Linked DNA regions of Homo sapiens. The protein of the gene in region 1 binds, or shares a complex with, the protein of each later gene. Each region holds a gene or a part of one and is shown on either strand. Other genes may lie near its edges.

Region 1 (3,600 bases):
CAGCATCACATAGGAGATGAACAGTCCTGGGATACACAGACCAGAAAGGCCACATAAGATCTAAGCTCAGGGCTGCTGGGAGGCCAGGGCATGACACAGCAGAGCCACCCACACACAGGGCTGTGAACCTACCCAACCATCCTCCAGGGAACCTGCTTATCTCCCTAGTCATTCGTCAAGGCATATGTCTACTCACATTCACTCAACAAACACCAACTGAGTGCCTGCCTCAAGCAAGATGCTGCATTTAGTGTTTCAGATTCCAAGGGGAACAAGATCCACCCATCTATCGATCACCCGGTCAACCACTTGTCTGTCCACCTACATACCTACCCACCTCCTCCTACACCTCACCCACCCACCCATCCATCCACCCATCATCCAGGCACCCGGCTGTTGACTGACTCATCCAAATGACTTTCTGAGCACAGCCTCAGTGCCACAGCCTGTTCTAGATGTGCAGTAATGATGGAGACACAGTCCCCATCCCTAGGAAGCCATGAGAGAGAGAGGTGCAGGAATTAGAAGCCAGGGTGACAAGAGGGTGACTGAGGTGTGAGCAGAGTGATGATGGGGTTGGGGCAGGAAAGAGGTAGACAGGTCATTGGAGTCCAAAAAGCCTGGGGCACCAGGAAACCCAGAGGTTACTGACTGGCAGCCTCGAAGGATGAACAGGAAAACCCCACGGGTGAGTTCGGGGCAAGCAGCTTCCAGCACCGCCAAAGTGTGGAAGCATGTTCAGAGGTGGGGTCTTCCCGAAACCCTGCCCAGGGTCAAGGGGAGGAGGTGATGACTTACCCACAAACAGGAGCAGCAGGAGGCCTGCAGCCAGTGGGATGGCGACAGCATAGGCTCGGGGCAGGAAATACTTGTGGATGACATGCTGACTGTCGATGAATGGCTGGCATCGAGGGAAGAGCTCTGGTGTGTCTTGCTTGCCTTGCCGAGCCCCCAAGCCCAAACGTCCCACCTCCTCCATCTAAGGGGCTGACCCATTCAGAGGACTGGGACTGCATTTGCTTTTCTTTAAGATTACGGCATTTGGGTGTCGTGGTTTGTTTCTTTCCTTAATTTCTTATTGGTATTTACCGGGCACTTGCTTTGGTGCCTGCTATAGGTTGGTGGTGGGGACAAGAGAACAGGGCACAAGAGACCTGCCCTAAGGCACCTCACAGCCTAGCAAATGGTACTTGAGGAATCCTCGACTGACTCCCAACCTGGGCCTCCAGGGCTTCTTCACTAATATTTTTTCTCTAAAGGATACCAAGTTCTGCACTTCCAGACACACTGCACTTCTTAAGCAATAACCAACAAGTTTTCCCACAAGAAAAAAATATCCTAAAGGCCTTCACAAATATCACTGGCGTTTGCCATGCCTAAGAGTCAGCAGGCTAACCCAGAAGGAACAGAACTCCCCCAAAAGTCAAAGCAAGCCGGAAACAGAGTTATAAGTGTAGCGGCTAAGGATGCAATCTTGGGCCAGATCCTTCTCCCCTAGCCTCAGCTATCTCATCTATAAAATGCGGTACCACTGGCATCTTCCTCATAGAGTTGTTCTGGAGAGTTCAAGAGATGAGGCAGGCAATGAAGCCAGCGCCGTGCCTAGAGCCTATATAGTAGTTGCTCTGGCGGTGCCAGGGCTCGGGGAAGGTGAGCAGCGGACGGGGAGAATGACATACCAAGAGAATCACCCAGGCGGTGTAGTAGGTGAAGATGATCAGGCTAACGGCGACGAGGCCGAGTCCCACCACCTGGTCTGTCCCCGTGGCCTGGAGAAAAGGGAGGTCTCAGCTGACGAAGTGACCCTCTATTTCGGCGCACTAATGGAAGCGGGGCGTCGCGGCCCGATCACGGTCTAAGCTTCCCATTCAACAGATGGTAGAGGGCTGACTAGGGATCAGTTTCTAGGCTGGGAGAGAATGCTAGGCCTCCGCGTTGTCGTCCGTACAATAGTGGGGGCGGGAGAGCAATCCCCGTTCCAAGTGCCCATGCCCCAGCTCCTGAGCAGACCCGGGACCCCACCCCCAGACGCCCCTATCTCCGGCACACGGTGCCAATCTCACCATTTCCCCGCGCGCTCAGCCACCCGAGCCGCAAGCCACATCCGGTTCCGGGTCCACGCTCTTCCGGCTTTGGACTGCGGAGCACGCCGGGAGTCGTAGTCCCCAGGCCTGCTCGGGCCCACCTCGTCGGAGACGAGCAGGAACCGCCTCCTCTTCTTTGCATATCGGCGAAGTGTAGTTCTCAAGAGCATTGTGGGGCCGGTTGCTGCCCGAATCTCTCTAGGGAATGGGACCGAGTTGGGGACCCAGACTCCCTGGCCTTCATGGCCACAGTCCTGTCGCCGCCCCACCAAAAGCCAATCTCTAAGTATCCCAGAGTCCCGGGGCCAGAGTGGGATGGGAGTGCGGGATCGGAAGTTCCATTTTTCAGATGGGAAAAGTGAGGCTCAGAGAAAGGTAGATCCCATTCCGAGTCAGTGGTGAAGCCGACACGGAAACCGGGTGCCCTACTTAGTCTGTAGGTGGGAGAGGTGCAGAGAACGTTCACTTTCCAGCCTAGGGTGGGCGGGGGAGGGTCTGTCCCTAGCCCGCATGGATGGGGAGGATTTGGTGGAGAGGAGGCGCCCTCCTCACCATCGCCCGGCCTCCCGGGCCACCCTTCGGATGTCCCCTCCCTTCCTTCACCGACTGTCTCTCGCAGCAGCCCAGACACGTTTCGGACCGGGACCCACGCACAGGCCCCTCCCCGGTCTTGGAAGGCCCTTCCTCTGAGAACAAAGAGATGTTGGGCCAGATCATCTTCCACGCTTCTTCAGCTCCGAGATAGGAACGCGGTCCCCCACCACTCACAGGCCGGCTGCTCCTCACCCATCCGGTCTCACTGGGACGCCACGTTCCTCAGGGAAGCCAGTCGGGAACGTTTTTTTTGTTTGTTTGTTTGTTTTTGAGACGGAGTTCTATGTTATCCAGGCTGGTGTCGAACTCCTGGGCTCAAGCGATCCTCCCAACTCGGCCTCCAAAAGTTTACAGGCGTGAGCCACGGTGCCCAGCCTCCTGTGCCTTTTAATTCACTGATGCAATTGTTGATCCAGCCCTGTCAGCCCCGAGGGTAGGGTCTGAGGTTGCTGCTGTATCCCTGGCACTCAGTGGAGGCTTGGCCCAAAGAAAGAGGTTTTTTTGTTTTTTTTTTTTTTTCCCAAGACGGGAGTCTCACTCTGTCACCCAGGCTGGAGTGCAGTGGCATGATCTCAGCTCACTGCAACCTCTGCCTCCTGGGTTCAAGCGATTCTTCTGCCTCAGCCTACCGAGTAGCTGGGATTACAGGCACGTGTCAACACGCCCAGCTAATTTTTGTATTTTTAGTAGAGATGGGTTTTCACCATGTTGGCTAGGTTGGTCTCAAACTCCTGACCTCAGGTGATCCACCCACCTCAGCCTCCGAAAGTGCCTGGATTACAGGCGTAAGCCACTGCGCTCGGCCCAAAGTAAGAGCTTTGAACCTGTCAGCTTTAAGATTGAGTGATTGTTTAGATACTGGAGTACAGCATCTGGACTCCAGGCCTCCCTGAGGGGTTATGTGGAGGCCTTTGGCCTGCTG
Region 2 (3,734 bases), on another chromosome or scaffold:
AAATGAGTAGTGGCCAGGATTCAAACCCAGGCATTGTGGTTCCAGGGTTCATCTTCCTGTCTGTAATGCTATCCTGCCTCACATAGAAAGGGGCCATCAGATTGATATGAAGAGGCAAAAAAGGATCAGGGGAGGGTGGAGAGGTGGAATTAAGAGTCTGAAAGTAAAGCATACCAAATAGAAATAGTTTGGATTTCCTACATAAGAAATAAACAAGCACATCCTTGTAAAATATAAATGTTACCAGTAAAACCGAAGTTGCCTTTGATGAACATTTTATTTATTTATTTATTTATTTTTTTTTTGAGATTGGAGTCTCGCTCTGTCGCCCAGGCTGGAGTGCAATGGCAAGATCTCAGCTCACTGCACACTCTGCCTCCTGGGTTCAAGCAGTTCTCCTGCCCCAGCCTCCCGAGTAGCTGGGATTACAGACCTGCACCACCATGCTGGCTAATTTTAGTATTTTTAGTAGAGACTGGGCTTCACCGTGTTGGTCAGGCTCTTCTTGAACTCCTAACCTCAGGTGATCTGCCCACCTCAGCCCCGCAAAGTGCTGGGATTACAGGCGTGAGCCACCACGCCCGACCTGATGAACATTTTCTATAGGCATCCCATTCCCTTGCACAGGGGAGACCCAGGTCAACAGTTTGGTGCGTTTTTTTGTGCATATATGTGTGTATGTGCATTTGCAGAACTAGGTAGTGTGGTGGTCTTGTTTTTTAAAACATAACTGCCATCTTCCTGTATCATCATTACTTCTAATTCTGTCTTGGCGATCTTTTGTCACCAGCTCACCTCATTTCTGTTAATGGCTCCATAATACTCTAATATTTTATATAAACCTTTGAAGATTCTGAAAATTATAAGTATCATAGTCTCCTTGTCCATGGTTTTGCTTTCCGTGATTTGTTACCTGCAGTCTGAAAAGAGGTAAGTACAGTACAAGAAGATTTTTTGAGTTAGACCAAGTTCACATAACTTTTATTACAATATATTGTTGTAATTGTTTTATTTTATTATTGGGTATTGTTAATCTCTTACTGTGCTTAATTTATAAATTAAACTGTGATAGGTGTGTATGTATAAGAAAAAGTATATATAAGGTTTGGTACTATTGGAGATTTCAGGCATCTCCTGGGGGTCTTAGAAAGTATCACTTGGGGTTAAGGGGGTGTGCAACTGTAACAAAGTTATGTTTGTTTGTTTGTTTGTTTGTTTGTTTTTTGAGACGGAGTCTCACTGTGTCACTGAGGCTGGAGTGCTGTGGTGTGATCTCAGCTCATGCAACCTCTACTTCCCGGGTTCAAGCGATTCTTCTACCTCAGCCTCCTGAGTAGCTGGGATTACAGGCACGTGCCACTACACCTGGCTAATTTTTGTATTTTTAGTAGAGATGAGGTCTCACCACGTTGGCCAAGCTGGTCTCTTAACTCCTGACCTCAAATGATTCACCCGCCTCAGCCTCCCAAAGTGCTGGGATTACAGGTGTGAGCCACTGCATCTGGCCAAAGTTATCTTTTTTTAAAAGAAAGATTTTCCAGCTAAAACAGAGTTGTAGAAAATCTCAGATGAGCTTTAAAAAATTTGCTTTTTCAGGGCAGATACCAGATGGGGATCAGTATTTTGTCAGAAATTATTCACAAAATCAAATAAAATCTAGCTGTGATCTGATATATCCTGCTCGATTTTGTTCAGTGACTTGCAATTATCATAGATGCTTATTTGAATGTCTTTCCTTCCTGTAAGCTCTTACCAGACAGCAGTGTATTTTATCCATCTTTATGCAAGATGTACTTTGCTATAGATACAAATTGTGACTTAAAATTTTTTAAATGTGGGGATAGTGGAGTAAAAGTGTAGAGGATTTCTTTTTAGCAGTTAGAGTTAGATTGTTATCAGCTTAAAATAGCCTGTTATCACTATAAGATGGGTTTTGTAAGTCTCATGGTAATCATAAAGGAAAAGCCTAAAGTAGATTCACAAAAGATAAAAAGTAAGGAATCAAAGCATAATAGTACAGAAGATAATCATAAAGGAAAGGAGAAAGAGAAAGAAGCAAAAGATCTACAAAACAACTAGAAGCAATTAACAAAATGGCAGTAGGAAGTTCTTACATTACATGTCGGTAATTACCTTGGATATAAAGGGATTAAATTCTCCAAAGACCTGGAGTGACTGAATGGATTTTTTAAAAAAGAGCCAACTATATGCTTCCCACAAAAGACTTGACTTGTAAGGATACACATAGACTCAAAGTGAAGGGATGGAAAAAGACATTCCATGCAAATAGAAACCTCCAGCAGATTGCATATAGTGAAAAAAAAAAAAAATCATCTGCTTTAATTGAAAATGCTTTGTTGAGAGATTTGCAGTCAGAGGCAACCTGCTTATATACTGGCAAGTGTAGAAGGGGACAAGATAGACAAGACATGCTCACTAATGAGTCTCCCTGAACCCCATACCTCAGAAACGTAGGGCACAGTGAGAACTTTGGCATTTGACTTTTAAAGTGTCCAGCCAAAAGGAAAAACTAAACAAGTAAAAGTCAGGCTCCAACTATTAAGCAAAAAGATTTAGGAGGACTAAGTGATTGACCAATAGTAAGAAAAGAGAAAGAATTTAATTAGGAATATGACATGTCCTTGGACCAGTAGAGGAGATGAGGTCATCCAAGCATAAGGTCAAGATAAGTTAATAGAGGAAGAGTGATATTAGTATTCAAAACCCAAAGGGAATCGAGAGAACAAACATCAGATTTCCCAAGAAGGTGCAAAATAATGAAGTAAGTCCTACATTTTTCTAGGAAGGAATCAATAGATTTAAAAGGAAAATCAAATATAGATGTAAAGACATATTTAAAATAGAGTGAGTGACACCAGAAAAAAAAGTTTAAAATTGTGATTGTAGGGTCAGGGTTAAAGAATGTTGCTTTGCTGGACGGGCGCGGTGACTCATGCCTGTAATCCCAGTGCTTTGGGAGGCCGAGGCGGGCGGATCACGAGGTCAGGAGATCGAGACCATCCTGGCTAACACGGTGGAACCCTGTCTCTACTAAAAATACGAAAATTAGCCGGGCATGGTGGTGCATGCCTGTAATCCCAGCTACTCTGGAGGCTGAGGCAGGAGAATCACTTTAACCCAGGAGGCAGAGGTTGCAGTGAGCGGAGATCACGCCACTGTACTCCAGCCTAGGCAACAGAGCGAGACTGCATCTCAAAAAAAAAAAATGTTAGCTACGTTAAACTATTTGGTTTGTTACCAAATGCTTTTTTTTTTCTTTTGGCAAAAAAATATTAAGGATACTTTGCTTTAAGTTCTAACAAGTGCAACTATATTTCTATTAAAGTGAGTATGCACTTTTGAATAAGATAAAATTTAACATGATAAGATTTCTGTTTCTGTGTGTAAAATGCTATTTCTTATTCCTACAGCTTCTAAGACCACGAGAGAAAAAGTTGGGACTAGGTAAGTCGTGTAATCTCTAACCCCTCACACCTGCTGCTTGCTTGGTGACATGATCCAGTGTGTATTTTCCCAGTTTGGAATAGGGCCAAAATACAGTAACTTCCTATGATGGTTTTTAATGATCTTAATGACATTTAAATGGTATAACTTGGGTCGCCTGTATAAGTCAAGACCCACTCAGGAAAACAGAACCACTGTAAGTCTTTCAGTGTAGGGAATTTAATACTGAGTCTCTGGTTACACCCCTGAAGGAGTTCCTGAGAAACCAA

What was found. The genes of interacting proteins can lie anywhere in the genome.
Region 2: DPM2 (region 1) and DPM1 share a complex: the UniProt entries of both Homo sapiens proteins name them as parts of the dolichol-phosphate mannose (DPM) synthase complex.

Annotation. Positions count from the first base shown.
Region 1 is NC_000009.12:127,935,755-127,939,354, forward strand, and holds the start of DPM2 (dolichol phosphate-mannose biosynthesis regulatory protein), read right to left. Parts: upstream 2,101-3,600; 5' UTR 2,067-2,100; coding exon 2,064-2,066; intron 1,770-2,063; coding exon 1,680-1,769; intron 1,557-1,679; coding exon of another isoform or gene 1,461-1,556; exon of another isoform or gene 1,063-1,460; intron 1,025-1,062; exon of another isoform or gene 902-1,024; coding exon 799-901; intron 27-798; coding exon 1-26. UniProt on the Homo sapiens protein: Regulates the biosynthesis of dolichol phosphate-mannose. Regulatory subunit of the dolichol-phosphate mannose (DPM) synthase complex; essential for the ER localization and stable expression of DPM1.
Region 2 is NC_000020.11:50,948,360-50,952,093, reverse strand, and holds part of DPM1 (dolichol-phosphate mannosyltransferase subunit 1), read left to right. Parts: intron 1-3,431; coding exon 3,432-3,465; intron 3,466-3,734. UniProt on the Homo sapiens protein: Transfers mannose from GDP-mannose to dolichol monophosphate to form dolichol phosphate mannose (Dol-P-Man) which is the mannosyl donor in pathways leading to N-glycosylation, glycosyl phosphatidylinositol membrane anchoring, and O-mannosylation of proteins; catalytic subunit of the dolichol-phosphate mannose (DPM) synthase complex.